3 separate regions of the Homo sapiens genome follow, and all the other regions are linked to region 1. The links come from fine-mapping of genetic effects on gene expression. A gene starts in region 1. Each other region holds a variant in brackets. All regions are shown on one strand. Distances are from middle to middle.

Region 1 (8,268 bases):
AGCTGAAGTTACATGCCTGGCTACTTTTTGTACTTTTAGTAGAGATGGGGGTTTCGCCATGTTGGCCAGGCTGGTCTCGAACTCCTGACCTCAAGTGATCCACCCGCCTCAGCCTCCTAAAGTGCTGGGATTACAGACGTGAGCCACTGCACCTGGCCACACAATTTCTTAATGACCATGTTGCATTTATTCTTCCTCTTTCTCAGCAGCCCCCCCGCCCCCAAGATCACCCAATCATGTGCCATATGCCAGGGTTGACTCCCTTCTTCCCTTTGAGGCCTTGTAGAAGGGCCCAGAATAAAAGCCTCAGCAAGGAGGGAACAAGAGGGGAACACAGGAAGCAGCCAATGGGTAGTTTTCCCCGGTCAGGAGAGGAGCCAGATGTCATCTGCCTGGGTGACCAGAGATGCCCTGCACCCTGACAGCTCTGGGAGTGGGGTGTCCACCCAAACAGCTGCAGAAGGAAGGCTAGTGTATTGTCCTCACCCCAGTAGCAGGCCAGCTCCTCTGCAGACCAGCCTTGCAGAAAAGAAAACACCTCACTAGCTTGCTGTTGCTGCTGCTGCTGCCGTCACTTTGTTATGAGGGTTAGTGACTGTCCATTAACTCCAGAGAGCTGATTCTTGCCAGTGCTGCACCAACAGCTGGGAGCCAGAAAGCGATGACGTGAGGAGGGGGGACTGGTCCCCCACCCTGGCTGGGCACTCACAGAATAATTCGGCGAGGTCACTGGCATGGTTTACTCAGCTCTACCGAAATGCCAATTAGCTAAGGTTTTTCTGAGCATCGGCTGGACCTGCCACAGTTGAGGGAAATTATTATCAGAGAAACTCATTTTGATTGATATATATATACACACACACACACACACACACGTAACACAAATATAAATTCTCTGTAGGGATGGATATTTCCTGCTTGTCCCCTCCTCTGGTCTTCCTAGGAGGGAGATCATAGCCAGGCAGGGTCCCTGGTAGGAGATGGCCAATGGTGGGGTCCCTGGCCCTTTGTTACTCACAAGAGATGGTGGTGGTGGTGGTGGTGGTGGTGGCAGGGATAATGGGGTGGTGGTTCCTGGCCTCTGGGCTTGGAGGCAGGAGCCCCTCTCAGTTCAGTCATTCTGAGTCACACTTATGGCTTTCCCAGAGAAATAAGAGAGGGGGTTCTTAAGAAAACATCAGAAATATAAATGGCTTTTTCTGGTTCCTATTGCTCACTTTCACTCCATTCATAAAATCCAGTTCATTACTAAAAGGTCATTAACTTTGTTGTCAAACCAGGTTGATAAAGCCGGCATCCTGTATTCAAGCAGAATTGAGGGGTTTATGGGTTTAGGACAGCCTCAGAAAGCCCTACAGAATATCAGGGCTTGAAATCTTAACTCATCTAGCCCAACTCTCTTCTTTTACAGATGAGAAAAATGAACCCCCAGAGGGGAATGGACCTGCCTGAGACAGCGGCGGATCTGTGACCAGAACACAGGGCTTCTGACTCCCAGTTAAATGCTTTTATTCTGATACACTTTAACATTTCATTCCCTCATTTTACACCCGATTACCGAGTCCTTACTATCTTCCAGGTGCTGTTGGGGAGGGGGTCATGAAGGGGGACAAAGAGATGAAAACAACACAATTCCTGCCTTCAGGGAGCTCTTTCCCTAGATCTGTGGTTCTTAGGGAGAAAAAATAAAAACCGGTGAGTCAGACTCTTACCTTATATTATCTCCTATAGGTGATGATGGAAGAGGAGAAGAAGGGAGGGCACACTTTTTTCTCCTTAAGGTTTATAAGTTTGGCTTCACTGATTCTGGGACCCCACGGTGGCCAAGGACAAAGGGAGACATGGCCATGCTGGGAGAAGAGGGGGTAGGGGTGACAATAATCAGGTCACTGACAGCAGGCCTGGCTAGGGGTTGGGAACAGTGACAGCAGCGCACACTGGTATGGAGATGTACAGGTGGCAAGCCTCCAATCAGGTGCATTGTTTTTCATTGGGCCCCAAGGCAGTTCCCTGAGGTGAGCAGAGCGGTGACCTTATCCCCACTCCAGGGGTGAGGAGGATGAGGTTGAAAGAGCTTAGGGAACTAGCTAAAGCCAGTAAATGCCAGCACCCAGCCAGGAACTCCTACTCTAGTGCTCTTTCTACCCCTGGGGGTAGGGAAGTTGTGTTGGGTTGGAGGGTGGGGATAAAGCAGTAGAAAGAAGTGGTCAGCCACAAGGGTAGGCCAATTCTTCCTCCACGCAGTTTTATTTTGATCGCTACATTCTGCCAGTCATAGAGAACTCTGCTCTGAAGAACTAGAAGCACTTTGCAGGCCTGAATGAGCTCATTCAGCGCACTCTTGCCAGAAAGAGAGAGAACTCCTAATGGAGGCTCTGTCTAGGGTCACCAGCACATAATAGAAAACAGGACCCAGGTTCCCTGACTCTTTGCCCTCATGCGCCAAGAGATGTGATGCAAATCCTGCCTGCTTCTGTGAGCGTCAAGAGTGTCATAGGAAAAAAAATTGAGGTATCTTCCAGGACCTCCTTCCTTCCCTGAAGAAATGGGTTAATCCATCCTAAGGGGCCTTGGCCCAAGAGCCAATCCCTTGGCCCAAGAGCCATTTCCAGGGCAGAGAAATCTCAGAGCAGGGGGTACCACAGCCACCTCAGTCACCTGGGTGAACAGGTTTGGGTGCGAGAAGAGGGGAGCTTAGTGAAGCCTGCTCAGATTTTGCTAGTGTCGCAAAACCTTGGTGGGGACTGGGGTACCAGGGAGTCTGAGGCTCTAATCAGTATTTCTTGCCGTCAGTAGGCAGGATGTCTAGGAGCTGCCTGAGGTCAGGGTCAAGGCCTGATGTTGTGAGGTTATGGTGTCTTGACCCCAGTTCATCAGCCCCCTCCCAGCACCCCCAGCCTGCAGGATGAGGGGTAGGGAGGGACGAAGTGCAAGCCTTGGCGGAGCGCAAGGTGCGGCCAAGCAGGGAGTCAGAGCCCCTAGCCCCGAGAGGGCTCCCGTGCCCTCCCCAGCTCACTCCCCGCTCCGTGCCTAGCTCTGCGCTCCCGCGGCGCCCCCAGACCGCCCCTTACCTGTCCCGCCGCGGACGGTCCCGCCTCCTCCGCGGGGCTCGGGGGCTCGGCATGGGCCGGTGAGCGACGGCGCCCCCGCCTCGCGGTCGCGGTGGAACTCCCAGGAGGGCTCCCCTGCTCTCGTCCCCGCGTCCCTGAGCAGCCGCCGCTTCAGCACCGCGGACAGCTCCCGCCCGCAGCCCGCCGCCGCCGCCCGCCCCGCCCCGCGCGGTCCCGGGAGCCCCGCATCCTGGCCGGGCCCCGCCGCCGCCGCCGCCGCGCAGCCCTCGGCCCGGCCCGAGGCGGCTCCGCGCCGACTTGGGAGAGCAGCGAGGAGGGTCCCCCTCCTTCCCGCCTCCCGCCGCCGCCGCCTCCCTCTCGCTTCCGTGCTCCGTGCTCCCTTCCACGCTCCGGAATCAGCCCACCAGGCACTCCGGACCCGGCTCCGGGGCGGGGCGGGGCGGGAAGTCGGGGGAGCCCGGAGGAGGCGGCGAAGCGAGGGGCGCGCAGCTGGAACCCGCGTACCCGCTTCCTGGAGCCGAGCCCTCTTTCCCAGCCCTTCTCTCCCCTCCTCCCGCGCACCCCAGAGCGATGGGAGGCCCTTGGGCTTCTTGAAGCATTTTGGAGCTCCTAGGCTCCAAAGCCAGCCCTGAGTTTTTAACATTGATCTGCCCTAAAAAGAAAAACAAACAGAAAGCATTTATTGAGCACCTACTATATACCAGATACCAAGCCCGATAATGTGTTTAATCAACATAAGCTCATTTAATTTTCTTAACAACTCTATTAGGCAATATAGTGCCCCTCTTCCCCTCTTCCCCTCCCCCTGCCCCCCTCCCCCTGTCCCCCTTCCCCCTCCAATTTTGCAGACCAGGACGCTGGGCTCACAAGGATGAAATCCTGTGATTTGGAGATTCAGTGCTGTGCTGGGAAGGGCACAGGTTTTAAAGCTCATGGACCTAAGTTTTGGTCCTAGGGTCCCACTTGCTGTATAACCTCGAGCAAGTTACCTAACCTCTTAAAGCCTCAGGTTCCTCATGGACAAAGTGAGGGGTCATATGAGGACAAAATGAGATGACATACGTGACACATTGGCACTCAATAGGCACTCAGTGAGTGAGCGTCCCCCTGAGTTTTCCCAGCAAGAGCCCTGAGATCCGAATGCAGGCCTTTTGGCTGCTTTGTCTCCACCCTGTGCTGCTCTTTATCCACCTCCACCTGCGTTTCCTTTTTTTTTTTTTTTTTTGCATGGGGATGCCCTATCTTGAGTGTTACCAGTGGATGAACCTATTCTTCGAGCGCCTTCACAAGGTCTTGAGTCTCACCAAAGTCCCAGGAGGTCAGGAGGAGAGAGTATTCTCATTTTCTGAAGGTAAGTGTGGGTTTGCAAAGTAAACCACAGAGCAGGCTGCAGCTGGGGCTGGAAGACACAAGGAACCAGGGTCTGGCAGTGGGATTCCACTAGCATCCACTAGTCTCCTAGCATCCAGCTGAGGATGCTATAGCACATAGCATGGTGGACTCCAGGACTCCTTCACTCCCACAGGATGTGGGCATCTGGCACAGTTCGGTGTAGCTCCTAGAGTGCACAGTAGGAGCCAGGAGCAAGTCCACATCATGGGGCTTGGGTCTCCTTCCCTTCAAGGCAGGACAGAGAACTCCCTTATCCTGGGGTCTGTCTCAGGGCTGGTATTGGTGTTTAACTTGTTGGGTGCTAAATATATTATTGCTCTTCCTGTCTCTGCCCCATTAGTGGATAATGCAGTGAGAAGCCCCCTGAGGCCAGCAAGGGTCTTGGACCACTCATCTCAGGCCCATACTTCATCTTCACAGACACCCTCCTCCTCAAAACACAGACATACAGACACACACACAACACAGACACACATAGACACACACAGACACACACACAAGACATTGTCTCTGATGTCAGGCCACCCTCCTGTACCTTTGCTTTCTCTGGCCTTCCTCTCACAGGGGCTCATGGCCACCTACTTGGCCTTGGCCTCCCTCTGCTGCTCCCCTCCCCACCCTGGCTGTGCTCCATGCCTGGGCTGCATACTGAAATACTAATTGAAAGGATAATAAAAAAGCCAGTGAAGCAAAAGCCGCATATAAATTCTAAATACTAATGTTGATAATTACATGCTGCTGCCTGGAGGGAAAACTCAAAGAGAGGCTGTTGGTGTTGTATCAAGGGCCCTGGCCTGGTGCCAGGAGACCCAGGTTCTAGTCTCGCCTTTGTCATTAATTGGCTGTGCGACCTTAGGCAGTCGCCTAATCTTCCTGGGCCTTTGCTTTCTTATAATTCAATAGCTCTGAAGAAACTATAAGTGCAATCAGCAATGTATGATGCTTGTGACAGAGAACAGTGGGTAATGCAGTGATAAGAATTTCTTCCCGGGAAACTAACCTTTACCTCTCACAAGGTACAGGGGTGGCTTAGGGACTGAAGAATCTACAACCATGCAAAGTTTCCATTCTTTTTCCATTCTCTCTTTATCCCTCCCTTCCTTTTTCCATCAAGCATTTCCTGCCATGTAATGAAAATCAACCCCTCTGTTAGACACCAAGAATGGAAAGTATAAACCATTGTCCAGGCCTTTGAAGGAGCTGCAATGAAGGGGATGCGGTCCATAGACATGTTGACCAGCAATTCCAACACCTTGTGATAAATGCTGTCATGGAGTAAGTGAAGAGTGCCAGAGAAGAAAACAACTCACCCTGCCTGGGGAAGTCCCAGGAGGCTTCCTGGAGAAGGTCTGAGTTTTATTAAAGGATGAGACAGTCACCAGGCAGGCCATGGGAGGAGGGGATTGTTGGTAGGAAGGCCGGAGTGAACAGATGAGCCTGGAGGACTGATGAGGAAGCTCCACCAGAGCCCAGGAAAGAGGTGGTGAGAACTTGAGCAAGGCAGAGTCAACAGGACGGGAGCAGGGAACGGATTTAAGACACTTCTGGGTGAAAACAGAGAGGAGAGATTGGTTGTGGGGAAGGGAGCAAGTCCAGAAGGGTAACACTGGGGGCTCCTGCTGCTGGGAAGCTAATGCTATTTACCAGAGGGCATCAGGAGGGGAGCAAACTGCTTACCTTGGGTAATGCTGCTTAGCACCATAGCCCCTCAGTTTCTAGGCACTCTCTCTTTTTTTAAAATTTTATTTTCCCTTTGGTTCCTAGAAAATTTTCTTCAGCTAAAAAGGCTCCTCCCATCTTGTCTTGATTATCTGAATGGAAAAGGGAAAGGCCCAGACTTGGGCCAGGAGAGCTGACTGGGGCAGAGCAGCCCTGGAAGCTCACCTGGAGGTAGCAAGCATCCTCGCTGGGACTAGGGTGAGGACCACAGGTAAGGGACAGAGTAGGCACTGGCTGAAAACCTGGGAGGGGATGCCCTCGTGTCCTCTTCTCCTCCCACATCTCTGACATTCCTTAAGTGAAATCCAACCCTAGAGGGTTCTGTTTTAGTTGGAGTCAGCTCCGGCTGCTAATCTCTTCCCACCTGGGGACTTCCCTTCATAAGCTTTTTCATGCATAAACTCTTGGTTCTTTTTACAAGGGGTTGATTGCCTCACAGTGTTCTCTAGGGAATGTAAATCAGCACCAAGCATAGAGAGGCCTGCCCCACTACTACTTCAATAGGCCACACACTGGAAGAGATGCTTCCCTTAAGAGGACAGGTGAGCCCCACCCCTGGCCTAGTGAGCCCTCTACCTCGGAGTTGAGCTCACGGCCAAGGCCATATGGCTGTGACCCACAAATCCCTGGCTAAAGGAGGGATTGTCTGGCAGAGGACAGGAGAGGTGGGCCTTTGGACTGCCCATCAGCCAAATCCTGCACTCATGGATATGGCTCCAGGATGACACAGTTCCAAGGAAGGGTGCATATGTGGCTGTAAGCAAATAGTGGGAACAAATTCTTGACCCTTAATGCTAGAGAGAACCCTGGAAACCCTTACTGCTTCTGAGTCAGGCCCTTTGGTTTGAGGCAGACCCCCAGCAATGAAGTCTAGAGTTGTCTGTCTTTTAAACTTCTTATTTGGGGGGCTTTGGAAGTACATTACCACAGCTGCTCACTTCTTTTTTCCATAGGAGACTGCAAAACGGAAGAAGCCATTTCTTTAGAAACACACTGATTCATGCCCAGGAAAGAAGATGAGGAGAGTTCTTAGCACCGGTCCCGCCCGATTCCCTGCTTTCCTGCCAGGCACACACTCACTCAAGCCTGGGGAGCAGAGTGGGTGAGCTACTGCCAATTTGAGAGGTAGAACCAGAGCATAAAGTGAAGGAATCCAGCCACCGCAGACTGCACAGCTCTGAACTCCACCACTAACTCTGGCATCCGCAGGCTGCTCGGGGCATGTGAGCATTTGCACCCTGGCAGAGTAACCTGCACTCTTGGCACTTTCCCACTTTGCTGGAGCAAGGATGAGTGAGCGTATATGTGTGAGAGGTTGGGGGTGCCAGGGTGGGGCTTATCAACAGTGGCAAGCAGATGGCAGGGTTCTTTCACCTGATATGGTAACAAAATGAAAATGAGCGGAAGAATACGCATTCTTTTTTTTTTTTTGAGACAGAGTCTCACTCTGTCACCCAGGCTAGAGTGCAATGGCATGATCTCGGCTCACTGCAACCTCCGCCTCCCAGGTTCAAGCGATTCTCCTGCCTCTGCCTCTCAAGTAGCTGGGATTACAGGTGTGTGCTACCATACCTAGCTAATTTTTGTATTTTTAGTAGAGATGGGGTTCACCATGTTGGCCAGGCTGGCCTTGAACTCCTGACCTCAATTGATCCACCCGCCTTGGCCTCCCAAAGTGTTGGGATTGCAGGCGTAAGCCAACATGCCCGGCCTAGCATTCTTTATATTTGCTTGCACACTACAATTTTTTTTTTTGAGACAGAGTCTTACTCTGTCACCCAGGCTGGAGTGCAGTGGTGCAATTGCTGCTCAACACACAGCAATTTTTGAAGCATCTGCTTTGCCATTATCTCATTTCATTCTTATAAACATGTATAATTCCCAGTTTACAGATGAGGAAAACTAGAAGCTAAGTAACCAGAGAAGCTAAGTAACTTCCAACTTGGAAAAAATAGTCAGAGATCAATACCAAGCCAAAAGAAAAAAAATGAAACTGATGCATAATCCTGCCTTCTTCCTGCCCTTGAAGCCAGAGCCAGTGTGATGGGGCTGGGGGAGTTGCAGAAAGAGGCCTTCTTTGCCTTCA
Region 2 (8,000 bases), 96 kb after region 1:
CTTATCTCCAACCCAGCGTCCCCTGAGGGCCCAGCTTTCAGTGTACCTGTTCATTTACTTGCTTCTCCCTGACTAATGGGAACATGCCTTATTATCTCAGCATCTCCAGTGCCCAGCACAGAACCCCAATAAGTGCTTACTGAAGGAATTGAATAATAACCATTTGTTTAAGGACAGTGTCTTCACTTGAGCAATACTTCATAAAACTCCAGTGCACAGCAAAGTCTCTGCCAGAAGGTGGGAAATGCACACTCCTAGGCCCACAGCCAGAGATTCTGATCCTGCTGTACTGGTGGGCCCAGGAACCCACGCTGTTATAGCTCTTCAGGCAATTCTGGAATAACTGGTGTTCACTGTGAGAAGCTCTAACCCCAATGGAAGAGAGAAGGGAACTCATAGACAGAGCCGTATGTGGGAACTGGATGAAGAACTCATTATCCCCTGAGGTCAGGACGACTGTCTGATAGATGGTGCTGGAAAACTCCCTCACTCCATGGAGAAAAATGGAGACGTGAATAGAGAAAGACCAGGTTCTTAACAGCCATATGAAGATGGACTCCAGATGAATCAAAGCATACCATAAAAGGGAAAACTAGAACTCAATTAAGGTATAGGAGAATATCTTTATGACTTCAGGATATGGAAGGATTTCTTAAACAAAGCCCCCAAAACACACAAAAATAAGGCAAAATGGTGAATTTCAGTAAATCAAAATTAAGGATTTCTGTTCCAAGAAATGTAGATAAGCTTAAAGGATAGAGGACAAAATGGGAGCATTGCAATTTCTAAACCCGGCCAAGAATCTAGAATATATAACGGACTCCTAAAGAGCCCCAGGAAAAAGCAGCAACCACCATTGGAAAACTGAGCAAAAATGGGAGCCAGCAGTTTACAGATGAGGAAACCCACAGGCTAATGTATGAAGAGATGCTTACATTTATTGGTAAACATTTACTTAGATATTTAATATGTAAATAATTTATCTTATTGATAATATAAATTATGATTTATATTAATTATATATACATTATTTAAATAATCTATAAATAGATATAAATATCAAATCATTGAGGTAATGAGATATTACTTTATGAGACTGGGAAGCTTCAGAAAGTGGGTGTTATTCTGGACAAGGCCTCTTCCAGTGGTACCCAAGCCCCACTGGGAGAAGTACTTAGAGCCAGCCTTGAACCCCATCCCCGTTCCCCAGCTGCTGGGGCTGGCAGAGACATCTTGGACACCCAGGCTGGCACGGTGGCAGAAACTTGTGTCTGCACCAGTCCTGGTGACACCATTCTCTGCAGCAGCTGCTGCTTATCCCAGGCCAGCTCCCCAGGCTGGGTCTGCAAAGAGCAGTGCCTCTGGCCCACAACACCCACCTAGACGATTGGAGCCCAGAGAAGCCTCCTTCCCTCAGCCTCTCTCCTGGCTCCTCCAGCCTGTTCTGAGCCCTGCCCCTTAAGTCAGCTCCCCGGAAGTCAGCTGACCCAGTCACCACTGTTCTGCTCACAGACTTCTACTGGCTACCCATGCCTGTGAGACAGTGTCCAAGCGCTTCAGCCTGGCACTCAAGACATTTCCCACACTGGCCTCTTCCTCCAGGTAGCCCTGCTCCAGTCATACTGCATTCATGATTATTCCCAGAGCATGCCAGGGAACGTTCACTATTCAGGTCTCTGCAAAGATGCTTCTCTCTACCTGGAATACCCTCTGCTCCCTCAATTCCTATTCACGCTCCATTCCTATTCATGCTCCAACACCCTGTGTGTAAGGGAGTGTGTCTTTGGAAGCAAACCATGCTTTGGAGCTAGAGTGATTTGATTCTGTTTCTAGCTCTGTCACCACTAGGTTTGAGGCCCCTGGGTATTTCAATTCACCTCTGAGCCTCAGTTTGCTAAACTATTAAATGGGGCTAAGGATTTCCATAACATGGAGTTGGGATGATGAGCTTCATATAACAAAATGCTTGGGACATTGCCAGCATATATTAAGTGCTCATTAAATGGTAGCTATTCTTGGTCAGGTGTGGTGGCTCACACCTGTAATCCCAGCACTTTGGGAGGCCGAGGCGGGTGGATCACAAGATCAGGAGTTCGAGACCAGCCTGGCCAATATGGTAAAACCCTGTCTCTACTAAAAATACAAAAATTAGCCGAGCGTGGTGGCAGGCGCCTGTAGTCCCAGCTACTCAGGAGGCTGAGGCAGGAGAATGGCGTGAACCCAGGAGGCAGAGGTTACAGTGAGCCAAGATTGTGCCACTGCACTCCAGCCTGGGTGACAGAGCGAGACTCCATCATAAATGAATGAATGAATGAATGAATGAATGAATGGTAGCTATTTTTATTCTGCTCCATCTCGAGTACCCGAATAATCTCATACAGAACAACTTGCTCCTCATCTGGATCCTACAGTGTCACCATTCACACCTCACTCATCTCAGCATCCTCAGAGCTTGGCACAGTGCCTGGCACATAGGTGGTGCCAACGCATGAGAGCATAATGAACACTACCCGTGATTCTCCCGCTCCTCCGTTAAGTTAGGAGGTCTGCCCCTTCTACTTCCCTTCCCTCCATAATCAAGTGATTGGACCTGGATGGCTTTGGTTTCTGTAAACTGGACCCTTGGGGGATTGGAACCCGAGGGGATCCTGGCAGCAGGAGGGTACACAGCTTCCCTGGCCTCCCTGGGGGTCTGGCCAGAACCAGCAATGTGAGCCCCAAGCACAGGCAGGGTCCCTCTTGAGGTGAAGGATTTACAACTGGATTATGAATCTTAAGGTGTTGCTTAGAAAGTGCTGCATTATATTATTTGTGAACTTAATCATAAAAATGTATGTGGAAAAAAATGTATGTGGGGTGTTTTGCATCATTAAAGGGTTTGCGTTGGGAGCGTATTTATCAAGGGTCCCCTGGCAGTGGGCCACATCACATCTTCCCAGGGAAGTGCAAAGCCCTACAAGTGCCTCCAAGCTGCTGAGGAGCCGTGCTCCTCGTTCAAAGGCACACCTACTCCCAGGTCTGCCAGTAGTCCCAGCCTGGCATCCTTATGGGTCTCCCTCCTTCCCTGACATGAAACCAGCTCCTTGTCACTCGGAGTTTGGGGGCCTGCTGCATAATCCTCATCTCCAGCCATGTCTCCTGACCCTGTGACACTCTTGGTTCCACCCACAATTCCTTAGGGCCTTTGCAGAGATTGCTGGTTTTTGGATTTCTACCCCTCCTTGCCACTGGCATAGAATCAGCCTCCTCCCAGATCCAGGCTGGAGTTCTGGTCTCTCCTCCTTCACTCCTTCAGCTGCCCACTCCCCATTCTGCGGCACGGTGTTTGGGGGTGTGAACCCCTGGTTCCTCTTCCACCCCCTCAAGACTGTGGGGCCTGGCCAAGGGCAAGGGCGGGCTTGGCTTACCTTGACACTCCTGTGTCGCCCCTGAGGTGGCCAGAGTGTAGCCAGGGTAGCAGAAGCAGGAGTAGGACCCCACGCGGTTGATGCAGCGCCCTTTTCCCTTGCAGGGGTCCCTCAGACACTCGTTGTCATCTGACCAGAAGAAGGCAGGGAGGGAGGTCAGGGGGGCCAGCGGTGCCGTTCTTTGGGCACCTACCAGCAACCTGCCCACACTAGGGGCTGGGCAGGGGATGGTGCTGTGTGGCAAGGAAGGGGTGAGGGAGTGGAGGAGGCTGAAAATCTCTAAGGCTGGAAGCCATAAAGTCAGCCCAGTGGGCCCACTCAGGCACCAGAAGCCTGGCGTGACTGCCAGCCCCTCCTATCTGCCCCTCGACTCCTTCCCCCAGTAGCCTCATGATTCCTTTCTCCTTTGAAACCACAATGGATATTTCTCCCTTATTTGAAAATATTGGGGGGAGGAGGAATGAGGTCCACACTTGATGATTTATCTTAGCCTCAGACCTCCCCCTACGGATGACCCTGGTGGAGACATTTGCAACTGGGGCAGTCCTGGGTGTGCTCTCCAGGCAGCAAAATGGCCAGTTTGAGGGGTGGGCTGATCTCAGAGAAGAGGGCTGCCAGGCACAGGCCAGGATGCATGCAATGGGCTGGCTTCTGTGCTCCTGGAGTCCTGGAGACTCATCGGATGGGGCTCACCGAGACTGGTCTTCCCCTGAAGGTTAAAGTTAGCTTAGTCCACAGGGACTGTGCTCCTCCTAAACTCATCAACCACCCAGCACTGCTTGGACCTTCTGCTTCTTCCTGGACTCTCAACT[C/G]GGCCTCTTAGCCCCTGCTCCCATCTACCCCAGCCGCCAAGTAAGCCCAGGGCACCCAAGTGAATACCTGTGCAGTAGGCCTGGCTGGGGTGCAGCTGGTAGCCAGGGCTGCAGACACATCTGTATCCATCGGGGAGGTTCACGCAGGTTCCAGGGCCACAGACGTTGGTGGCTCCAGCAGCGCATCTGTCAATGCCTGTGGGAGACAGAGCAAAACAGAGGTTATGGCAGGGTGGGTGCTGGACAAAGGCAGTGGAGCGGGGTGGGGACAGTCAGTGGCCAGGGTCTAGGGGCCTCAGAAGGCCAACCTTAGCCAGGCCCTCCCTCCCATACCCATGCACAGCTTGGCCTTGCATAAGACCCTAGGGGACCTCTGCCCAGCACCCCGAGCCCTACCCAGGATGGAGGTCATAGTAGGGCATCCCCCTCACCGAGATCTAATGGATAACCCATATTTCCAGCAAATTTCCAGCAAAACCCCTCCATCCTAGCCCCACCCCGAAAATGGGCCTGACTCCTACCCAGTGCCCAGCGCCATCCCTCCCTGCAACTCCTGCCCAGTTTTCCCTGGACAGACAGACAGACCTGGTGAGTAAGGTGCTTGGGGAAAACTGCCAGGGGAAAATGGGAGGGGTGGACTGGGGTCAGCTGAGCAGAGCCTTGAAAGCCACATTGAGACTGGCCTGTAACAAGGATTTTGTGAAAGGTGGGGGTGGGTCAGAGCAGTCCTAGAAAGGCCACTCAGGCAACGAGATGATGGATGAACTGGTAAGGGAGGTATAGTGGGTCCTTAAAACCTGTTGAAATAATTTAAATGAGGGTCTGCCTTGGGTGGTGGTGATGGGGTGAGAAGTGGGGAGACAGGTACAGAATTGAGAAATAGTTTGGAGGCAGACTCACTGGGACTCGGGGTTGAGGCTGTGTAGACAGCAGAGACTTTAGCTTTCTGAACGGTATCCCTAATACTAGAAAGGTACCTGGCACTTAGAACATGCCAAATGGATAAATGAATGAATGATGCTTCTGCATTTGTGTCCACCCTGAAGTCTTTGCCTGAAGCCCACATGCTCAGGGGTCCCTGCCCCGCCCCCATAGCTTGGGAGAAGCCGAAGACCCAAGGGAATGGGTTGGGGAATGGTCTGTACGTGGGTATACAGTGGGGCTTAACAGTCTGCCAGATTGTACTGAATTGAATGTGCACCCAAGGCTACCCTCTCCCCGGGCCTGGCTCTAAGTTTGTGTCAGCCTTGGGGGTTGTGGGGGCCCTCAGCTGGGTCCTAAATGTCTGCCCAGAGGGGTGAGGTTACAGAATGGCAGAGGAGAAGGGGGATAGGGCAAAAGGCTGAGGCTGGGGTTGCGGTGGGGACACTCATCCACATGCCAAGAGCTGCTGCTGAGCTTGGCCTGCCCCCTGCCCCCTGCCCCCTGCTTCCCATCCCTTCCTCCAGGTCCATTTTCCTTGTCAGAAATTCAGCACTCCTCTGCACACTCTGCCTGCTGAGCAGAGGCCAGAAGGGGATGCTCCCTGGAGCAGCGCTTTGAGCCCAGAGGAGAGAGGTCCCAGGAGAGGTCAGTGGGGTGTGCCTGGGAAGGCTGGACCCCTACTCCCCACTCTCTGGACTGTTCCACCAGGCGCAGGGGCTTTCCCTTTGCTGAAGGAAATCCAGAACCCCCTGACCACCCTCACCCCCAACACAAGGTGACTGGGTCTCTGGACCCAGTCGTAAGGTTAAGAGAGCAGGAGCCCCAGGAGCGGGCACACACGTGTACAGGGAGCAGCGGCAACAACACCCGCCTTGCTTCTCCTGCACCAAGTCCCCAGACAATGAGCCTTTAAGGAGGGCACATTCCAGAGCAAGGTGGATTTGCCAGGATCGCCCCCACACCCGCCCCTCGCCCCCATCACTGTAGCTGACCAGAGGGAGAGGAATGCAGGCTTGGTTAAACAACCTTGAGAAATAGAACCATGTTCCTTCCCGAAAATCAGCCCTCCCCGTGGGCAGGCAGCTGCTCGCTGCCAGGCACTCTGCTGACTCAGGGGAGTGGCCTGGAAGAGCCAGGATCCCAGTGGCCCTCACTCCCCATGCTCCCCTTCCTTGAGAGGGACCCCCAGATTCTCCTGGAAGACCCCTGGCTTCCTTCTCCCATGGTGTCCCTTCTCTTCCCCCTTCTGGGCTTGGGCAGTGCTCCAGGCAGGGCTCTTGTTTTCACAAGAGGGACCCTGTGTTCTTTGTAAGATGAGGCCAGGGGTGCACAGCCCAGCTGGGAGCCTGCTGGGGACTTTACCTAGTTGGAAAGGTGAGGGGGCATTCCATTCATGCCCCTGCCCTGGAGTTGGCTCTGGACAGACACAGCTCACAGGGCAGGGTGCAGGGAGCCCCAAAGGTCTGGCTGCAGCTACCTGGGGTGCTCAGGGTCACCAGCACATCAGTGGAGGGGGTCACTTGTTCTTCCTGTATCTCTGCAATCCCCTGTTCAGGCATTGGTGGGGTTGTGGCATTCCCTGTGGAGGAGAGAGGGGAAGAGGTGGGGTTGTGGCCCCTTGGCTGGCCATGGCCCTTCCCTCTTCCCTGGTGCTCAGACTCCCAAGAACGAAGGGTGAAGCCTGGGGTGGGTCACTCCCATGCCTTCCAGTCTCCTGAAAGTTGATCTGGCCCCACTTAGAGAATCTGAGAGCTCTAACAGGCGTTGGAGCACATCCAGTCTAATCCTCCATGTCAGGGCCAGGAGACTGAGGCTTGCAGAAATGGTCACTTGTCCAAGGCCAGTCAGCTTGTCGGAGGCACAGCTGACACCTGGGTTTCCTAATTCCCACTTCAACATTCTTTCACTTCTGCTTACAAAGCATTTCACAGCTTACAGAGCTCTGCCACAAATACCAACATCTTATTTGCTTTGAGAGTCTGCAAGACAGGCATCAGTGTCTTCTACCGTTTTACAAGAAGCATGAGCTCAGCCTTCCAATGTCTGAACCCAACACCAGTGACAGGCAAGTAGTGGTTTCAGGACAAGACCTCTTGGGGGAAAGAGTCTAGCGACCCAGCCAAACACCTGTTTCAGCTAGTGCTGTCTCTTTGTTCTGATTTATGTGCTAAGTGGTGCCATGAAATTTGCAAAGAGTTCTGTGGCTAGAAAACTATCTGTGAAGCGTCATGGGGTCTCTCGCTGACTTCACAGCACCTTAGGTGTATAGAGAGCTCCCAGAAACAGCACTCACAGGCCACGTCCTTCTCACCCTCCTCTGATGTGTGTGTGAGCGTGAACCAGCTCACACATAGTAACTCCACTCCTGATTAAGGGCTCTTTCCCTCCCTTCTCTTTTGCCTAGGAGCCGCCAGGAAGAGGGACTCACCTGTGACCCAGGCAGGTGCATGAGTGACACTGGTCGTGACCTGCACAGAAACAGGAGAAGGTCACTTTTGGCTCCTCTGCCGTACCTGTGATGTGCCACCTTCCACCACACTGACCCCCACCTCCGGGCTTCCTACCAGGAGCTCATTCATGTTTTCATTCATTCCAGGTATTGATGAGTTCTTACTCTATGCTGGGCATTCTGCCAGGCACTTTACACACACTCACTTCATTAACCTTCTCAACTATCTTATGATGGGAGGTTGAAATGATTAAATGAGCTGATATACATACTATGCCAGCTCAGTGTTGGGTCCATGGTAGAAAATCAGCAATTTGGTGTCAGCTATAACCCTAGCATCTCAACACAGTAACAGAAGCTCTGGAGGTTCACTAGAGTGCCTGGAGCCACAGGGCCAGAGTGGGGAAG
Region 3 (8,268 bases), 52 kb after region 1:
TGAAAAAGAATGTGGTTAAGTGTCTTAAAAAGAGAGGGTTAGAATCTGGCTTAATGAAGGCAAACCAGAGTGTGGCATCAGAGAGGCCATCAGTCTTGAAAGGCACCTGGAATTAAATTTGGAAGACAAATGCATGGCAAATGCCTATGATTCTAGGCCACTGAGCAGTTTCCATGGCTGCAACCTTCCTTTTTTATCTAGGATGATAATAATAATACTAACGACCTTTCTCAGCTACTTATTATGCGTCAGGTACTGCACTGAGCACTTTGCATCCCCCATCTCATGTCATCATTAGAACCACCTGAGGTGGGTATATTCTTATCATCCTGTTTTACAGCTGAGGAAATTAAGGCCCTAAGAGGTTAAGGAACTCATCAAAAGTCAAGCAGCTGGAAAAAGTTGGAGGTGAGATATAAACCCAGCTTGTATTTAACATTTTAAATGTTACAGAAATCTGTAAACAACTACTGCTTCCAAAAGTGAAAACCTCCCCACAGATTCTGGGGAAGTGCTCAACTGTCCTGTGGAGCAGTCCAAGTTCTAGTGGCATCTCTCTCTCTCTCTTTCTCTGGTGCCAGGCTCTTAGACTCTGAAGCTCCTGGGAGGGTCTGAGACTAACAATTCCAGGCAGGAAAAAGGCAAGATTAGGAGAAAAAAAAATCAGCATCACAAATCTCAGAATTCTGCAGAACCAAGTGAAAGTCTCCTGGGCCCAACATATCTGAAATGGTCTCTAAAGCAAATGTCTTGGCCTTAGTCTCCATCCTAAGCCTCTCTGGAGTTCAGAGATTTTCCCCGCCCTCACAATATGAGTAACTAGAAAACGATTCATCTGTGTCCATTTGCCAGTGGTTCTTCAACTTCCTTTCAGCGTCTCAATGCATCATAAGCTGTTAGTCCTGACAGAGGCTTTAGTGATTAGTCCAATCCCTTCAATTTGTACATTACACATTAACAGTGGTTAATGGAAGAGCTTCTGGGATGTTTTCTCTTTGTTTTAGTAAAAAAATCATCTTACCACTAAACACTAATGTGAGAGTTACTTTGATTGCAAAACAGAAAAGAATCTTACAAGCATTGTGTGTGTACACTGAGAATCTCCATCAAACCTCATCTTTCCTATGTTGATCCATTTGCAGTATCCCCCTTTGTGGCAGAGGCATATGGATGGTTGAGGGTGTAGTGGGCAGAGCAATGCATTTCTCCAGCGCTGAGAACAGTCTGCTGCTGCTGGCCTGCTCTCTGCTTTTTGATCTGGCACACCCAGCAGCTCTGCCATGTTCAAGGCCAGCAGCCATCCATTTGTCTGCCAGGCTCCTTCTTGGCCTTACCCACTGGCAGTCAGAGCTAAGCTGATCTTTCTGCCTGCTGGCTGCTTATCTGGGACATATGATTTGTGGAGGACGGCCTGCTAGAAGGGAGCCGTCCTTCTCCAAGCCCCTGCAGGTGAGGGGAGCCACACTGACATGCCACGTCTGCTCCAGAATCTCAGGCTCTTAGTCTCCATTTGCAACTGCAAACACCTGTGCTCTGTGGCTAGCATTGGGCAGTGAGCAGAGAACAGGCATGGGAACATCTGCAGAAAGTAGAAGAGGTCACTGTTCTTCTGCCCCAGTCGAGAGGAGCTGGCCGGATCCACTCACCCACATTGCCCACCCTCTTCCAGGACCCTTGAGCCACCTATGCAGGCCATCTCCTGGTCTCCACCCTCCCCTCCACCCCTTTTTAGGAACCAAACCCCTGGTTTGGAGAGCCTGGTAGGTTCCCATAGCAATGGGCCTTTTAGCTGTTTCCATGGCAACCAACACCCAGACCATTTAGTTGCTAGTCAACTGACAGCTGTAAGTGAATCGGATTCAGTTTAGAATCTAGGGATAGGCTGAGGAATTCTCTTCAGAGAAAAAGACACAACCACCCAAAATGACTCAAATCCTTCAAAGACTTTCAGGCAACATCTGTGGAGATCCAGAGCCACTTTCTACTTTGGGTCACTCAACCCTGTCTCCCCCCAGCCCCATTCCCAACACACACACACACACACACACACACACACACACACACACACACACACACAACCCTGTCTCCCCCCAGCCCCATTCCCAACACACACACACACACACACACACACACACCCTCGCCTGAGTGTTCCAGGCCTTTAAATAAGGCATACCCCAACCTCTATTTCCTGTTCTGTCTCTTCCTTGGGAAAAACACTTGTTTAACGTGACTTTCACCTTGGCGACTTTCTTACACGACTCCTTTTTCTGTGCTAATGCTTTTCTTATATACTGTAACCCTGTCCTTGTACCAACCCATTTAACCATTGCTTTTTGGATTATCTGAAGTGAATGGCTGATCCCAGATCATTTTCTCTTAGTTGACCTCACCTATTTCAAGCCACTCTTCCTATGTCTGGAGGGTGTTCTCAGAGAACAAGCTGTTTTTATCAACCTTTCCAAAGCATAATCAAGATCACCCTGTTTCTTTTCTGAAAGACTTTGTGTTAAAAAAAAAAAAGATCACTCTGTTCCTTTTAAAAAAAGTCAACTAAGATTTAAAAACCAAATATGCAGGATTTAAAATTACTCCATGCTTGTTGCTTTTTATTAGTATGAAGATTTGACTGAATACTAGTCTTCATATTTAACCTTTTCCCAAACTGGAGATATGAGGTGTTGGGTTCCCTTTATTCTATAAGCAGGGGTGCCCCTCATTATTATTTCAACAATTAGAATCTGGGATTTATCTGTCCTGGAATTCATGTAAGAGCTGAGCCTCCAAAACCTGCTCCGTGGACTAGAAAAGCATGAGACGGTCATTGGAAAGAGGATGACCTTTTTGATATACCTAAGATTCAGTGCTTCTCAATGTTTTAATGACTCACGGGGGCGTCTGTGAACTGTCTGTAGAAGACGACCTTTCAAACTAATCCCCCCACGGGAGCCCTACCTAGCTCACGGCTGCAGGCTTCATGTAGCCCCGCGATGGCTGGCAAACAGTCACAAGCTGTTGTGTTCCCCTTTTGCTCTGATGGAAGGGTATAAACTAGCCGAAATACTTTTTAATTTCGATTTCTGAAATATCTACTTATACTCTTTGTCTTTAGTGCTTCCCCACCCTTTTCATTATCACTCCTTACAGGAGCTTTTATGGACCTTTTAATCCTAATCGACCACCCCACCAAATTTTAATACCGCAGATATAATATGTATCTGTTTATGTATTATCTGTCTGTTCCTGCTTTACACATAAAAAGATTAAGAATTTTTTTGTCCCTAAGAACAAATTTTCACAAAGAATGCAAGTTATAAACAATGAAAGATATACAGTATTAAAACATTGTTTCAAATTTGAAGAATAAGTGGAGGAAAGAAAAATATATTTTAGAACTTAGATATGTAAATTATTTCCAAAATAGTTTAACACTCAAACTAGTCAGCTGTATCAAAATCAATTCTCCCTGAAGTAGGCACTGTTCCTAGCTAGAGGCAAGTACTCATTTTGCATGGTATTGTGAGTCCTGTCTTCTTTTAACACAAGGGCAGAGGAGTATGCAGGGTGGGTAGCTGTTAACTTCAAAGGAGCTAAATGGCATGAGAAATCTTCTGGGAATAGGGAGACAGTGGACACATGAGAATTGAGCTTTTCCAGGCCTTTCAGAAAGTTCTTGTGCACAGAGGATAGCCTCATCCTTCTGAGGAGACATCATCAAATCTCAGATTGAACCTTCTAATTTTCCTGCTATTTGTAGACAAAGAAGAATGTCTGTCTCCCAGAGTGACAGCTAACATTTAGAGAGTATATACTATAGCCAGGGTCATTCTAAGTGTTTTACATGCCTCATCTCATTTAGTCTTCACAGCCCTATTATTATTAGTCCTATTTAACAGATAAGGAGACTGACACACAGAGAGATGAAGTGATTTCAAGATCACACTGGTAGTCCTGTTAATTGTTGGTGCCAGGATTCAACCATAGGCAGTCCGAAGCCAGAGACCCGCACAACAGTTAACAGCCTCAGGAATTCACACAATTCTGATACATCTAGAGTCTGGTATGGGAGACAAGGTGGACTGTCACTCTAGACTCAATGTGGCAGGATACACAAAAGATCTTAGGTAAAAAGTACACTGGTTGACTGGCTCCTAGCATTAACTAGGAAAGCTTGGCTGTTGATAACTGTATTCCTGATCCATCACTGTCCCCTGGTGGTTTTCCTGGGAAACTCACAGACCAAAGAAATCCAAGGGTCTAGTGAAATTAGTGGGATGAAAAGAACTGGATCAAATCAATCACTTGCTCACAAGCACTTTGTATGAATGTTCCTTCCTTTTGCCCTAACAATGGATGACCTAAGGTCCATGTTATTCAACTCAATTGTGAATGGGGTTGTAATCCCTGTACCACCTAAGAGCTGACTGCTAGTATACTGACTCAAAATAGGTGGCAAAATATATGCCCATGATTATACTTGTACTTTAAGATAGGAAACTCCAAGATTTAATTAATTTAGCCATTACTTGCTACAACTTCACATTTCATTTTTAAGCTTCTAGGCTTTCTTCACAGCAGTGTTCCCAAAAGATCACCATGCCTCATCCTAACCTGTAATCCCTAACCCCTACCTGCCCTCCCCACCAAATTCAGTTCCTTCAACCTTTCAGGCGTTATTATTCAACTAGGTGATTTTTACTTTCACTGCTTCTTTCGAGCATGCTTGGTGGTATAAGATTGTGTCAAATAAAGCAAAACAAGGCCATTTTATATAAAATAGATATGGTCTTACTGGACAAAAAGGAGGAAAAAGAGTTTCTGAAAAAGTCATGTCTTCAGTGCACTCTGGGACCACGGAACTGGGGGCCTGCCTTCCATGGTTCTAGCAGAATGTACCCTGAAAGGAGCAGGAGAAGACCACAGCCCACATGCAGAAGACAAGACAAACGAGTTTTTATTTATTCAAGA[G/C]TAAATTTCCAGGTGTAGAAAGAGGCCACAAGTTAATGTTGTTAAAAAAAAAATTAAACATCTGCTAACCAAGTGCTGCATTTAATGAAACCACCTAAGACAGAAAAAGAGACATGAGACAACCACTGAGAACCAGCCACCCGGAGCTCAGTTTCTGCTACAGAGCACCTCCTCTTCAACGAATCACTGGATACCATTGGAGAGCAAGTCACTGTTGTTGAAGCAGCAGAGCTGGAGGTGCTGTCAAGAGTCTCAGCAGACTCATTGGCCAGATGCACCGAACTCAATGAGGCACTTAGAGATGAGAAACCTGTGGATGTAATGTCCCAGCTCAGTGGAAGTGGTTTGGAACCTTTCCTCCACTGTCAGGGCAATAACCCTAGGGCAAGTTATCAGACATTCCTAAGCAACCTCCTTCAGGTCCTGTCTGGCTGGACCTTCCTTACTCCGACAGAAAAAAACCAATGAAGACAGTTAAATCAATCTCTACAGTCTCACTCTCTCTTCTTTCCTTCAACCTTTTTTTTTTTTAACAAAGGATATTACAAAGGCAACAGTTCTGAGCTCTCAGGAAATAGGGTCTCAGATGCTTTTAGAGGTTGAGAGGCATAAAACAGCAGTCTTGAAATTCCTTTTATCTTATGGCACTGATTTAGTTTCAGTCTGATTTCTCCTCCACTTTCTTCCCTCCACCCATGCCCTCTCACCCCCAGATAGACTTACGATCTGTACTGGGATTTCCCAGCAGAAGAGACTTTGGTTTTTGTCATCCTGAAGTTGCCACTCCACCACCAGTTTTATCTGGAGAAAGAGAAAAATAATTGAGAAAAATGAAAATAGGACCTGACTTCTATCCATAATTGGTTTAACTATGAATCCTAGATGTACAGTAGCAAACTTCCTAACTCCTCATACTTTTTTTCTTAAATCATGAGGGCTGCTTAGCATGTGGGCACAGCTTACAGCCTTAAGAGAGTGAACAAAGTTATACTTGTGATTTGATGCTAGCAGCACCACATACTAACTTGGTTAATTTATCAAATGTAATTTCTAAAGCATTCTCTTCTCTCTTAGATCAATGGCATATAAATGAAGTGATACGGTTTGGTTATTTGTCCCTTTGAAATTTCATGTTGACATGTGACCTCCAATGTTGGAGGTGGGCCTGGTGGGAAGTATTGGATCATGGAGGAAGATCCCTCATGAACGGCTTAGCACCGTCCCCTTGGTGATGAGTGAGTTCTCACTGACTTCACATGAGATCTGGCTGTTTAAAAGAGTCTGGGGCCTCCCCCTTCTCTTTCTTGCTTTAGTGCTGGCCATGTGACACGCTGGCTCCCCTTTGCCTTCTGTCCTAACAGTAAGCTTCCTGAAGCCTCACCAGAAGCAGGTGGTGGCACTATGCTTCAGGTACAGCTTGCTGAACCGTGAGCTGATCAAACCTCTTTTCAAGTTACCCAGTCTTAGGTATTCCTTTACAACAAGGCAAATGGACTAACACATGAAGGCTTACATGAATAATTTCACATTTAAGCAATTTCTCATGTATTTGGCAATCTGATCCAGCTTTTTCCCAATGTAACCATGAAGAGCAGAGAGTAAAAAAAATTTAGATTCTTAGGTATAAGGAAACGTTCTTGTTAGCTAGAAATGGAAATGTCAAAGCACAAAAGATGGCCTAGAGAAGTCTGTAGCTGTATGAATAATTTCAAGGATGACAACCTTTTGTAGCAATATACTTTCAGTTAACGCCCTTAAACTGCTTTCTAATAATGTACTTCATCAGAAATCCCTGCCTTGACTTGTTACACTCATATCACGTGAGTGGTCCCTTCCAATTCTTGATAACTCACTGACACTCTGCAGGTCCTTTCTTATGTGGACATTAGCTTACTTGTCACTAGTTACTACCTCTCTTTTGTACTCTAATGTTTCTTCACAATGGAACATGTGAGTGGCACTGATATTCAGGTTCTTGAAACTTGCCTTGTGAGTTTTTCCAGACTAGTATACATTAACTACTGCTTCATTTAGTGCTTAAGCAGTTTGAGCTATTTTTCAAATTAAATGTAACTCATTTAACAGACAATAACTACCATACATTAAGTACCTACTACGTATCAGGCTCTGACTAGTCACTGCATACGTAACTGAGGTTCAGACATGCCCATGGTTATGTGGATATTCATCTACTAATCTGTCCCTGACCTCTAAGGTCTCCAACAGCCCTTAAGCACAGACATCCTATATTTGAGTCTCTTTAGAATGTTCTTTAATTACTTACCTTTCCTAGAAAATAAATGGCCAGATATTGCTCCTGAGTTCTACTTGATTTCAAGAAATGCGGCTCTTTTTCTTCATGGAAAAAGGCCATCCCTCTATTTCCTCCATTCTTATCAAGATACATATCTTTAATACAGGTCCACTGCAGCAGGATCTACCTTATGAGTGCTTGGTAGAAAAAGAGGTAGGTGCAGCAGGGATGGGTCAGAGGTGAAGGTGGGGATTGGAGGGCAGAAAGAAGGCTGGAAAAAGCTACCTCTCTGCCATGGAGCTAACAAACTACTGCTCTCTTGTTTTGTTAAGAGATTAATGGAGAAACCAGGATTTTCTGATGACAATGTTAAGACAACTTGGATCTTTAATTATTTGGTACCTGGCTAAAATCTTTTAACATTGCACAGGCTTTGGAGTTATAAGACCCAGCTCAAAACCTGGGCTCCACTGCTTCTTAGTGGAGTGGACTCTGTTCATATTGCATAACTTCAGAGGCTCAAATTTCTTCAGCTGTAAAATAGAGATAATATCACCTCTACATAGGATGGTCATGAGATCCAAGTGAAATATTGTATATAAAAATGGCATCAGCCGTTGCTGTGCAGAGCCGAAGCAGGAGCCGCAGCTGGGAGGAGGGAGGAGGGAGGAGGGAGGAGGGAGGAGGAGGTGGAGGAGGTGCCAGACTGGGGGAATCATCAGTATTTAAACAGACCACATCACGGGTGAGCTAGTGGTCCTTGGTTCAGGAGGTGTTGGGCAGTCTGCTCTGATGGTTCAGTTTGTTCAGGGAATTTTTGTTGAAAAATATGACCCAACGATAGAAGATTCCTACAGAAAGCAAGTTGAAGTCAACTGCCAACAGTGTATGCTTAAAATCCTAGATACTGCAGGCACAGGGCAATTTACAGCAATGAGGGATTTGTATATGAAGAATGGCCAAGGTTTTGCACTAGTATATTCAGTCCACGTTTGACTTACAGGACCTGAGGGAACAGATTTTACTGGTTAAGGACACAGAAGATGTTC

Alleles and levels. Positions count from the first base shown, and alleles are read on the strand shown. Sizes are in standard deviations (SD) of each study's normalised expression. Not every link is listed here.
With allele C in place of G in region 3, the expression in tibial artery of the gene that starts at base 3,370 in region 1 is higher (large effect, 1.1 SD a copy in GTEx).

What was found. PIP is the estimated chance that this variant, and not a neighbour inherited with it, causes the effect.
Region 2: its variant is fine-mapped to the expression of SYNDIG1L in tibial artery (GTEx, PIP above 0.99). The same link has a PIP of 0.9 or more in subcutaneous fat, sun-exposed skin and transverse colon.
Region 3: its variant is fine-mapped to the expression of SYNDIG1L in tibial artery (GTEx, PIP above 0.99). The same link has a PIP of 0.9 or more in aorta, esophagus muscle, lung and unexposed skin.

What each region holds. Positions count from the first base shown.
Region 1 is chr14:74,422,841-74,431,108 of GRCh38, forward strand. SYNDIG1L (synapse differentiation inducing 1 like) reads right to left here and starts at 3,370. Exons shown (of 4, transcript NM_001105579.2): 1 at 3,072-3,370.
Region 2 is chr14:74,518,504-74,526,503 of GRCh38, forward strand. LTBP2 (latent transforming growth factor beta binding protein 2) reads right to left here. Exons shown (of 36, transcript NM_000428.3): 14 at 7,572-7,611; 15 at 6,621-6,722; 16 at 4,287-4,415; 17 at 3,408-3,536. LOC124903347 (a long non-coding RNA gene) reads left to right here. Exons shown (of 3, transcript XR_007064266.1): 3 at 101-815. Among named protein-coding and RNA genes, the nearest start is that of ISCA2, 29 kb to the left of the region's middle. RefSeq lists enhancers at 3,945-4,823, 5,285-6,224. The variant C/G (reference allele first, on the strand shown) is at 4,220.
Region 3 is chr14:74,475,014-74,483,281 of GRCh38, forward strand. It overlaps NPC2 (NPC intracellular cholesterol transporter 2), which reads right to left. Exons shown (of 5, transcript NM_006432.5): 4 at 5,689-5,766; 5 at 4,927-5,275. The coding sequence ends at 5,261. MIR4709 (microRNA 4709) reads right to left here and starts at 5,191; the gene lies at 5,120-5,191. It also overlaps a transcript of SYNDIG1L not described here and the pseudogene RAP1AP. The variant G/C (reference allele first, on the strand shown) is at 4,966.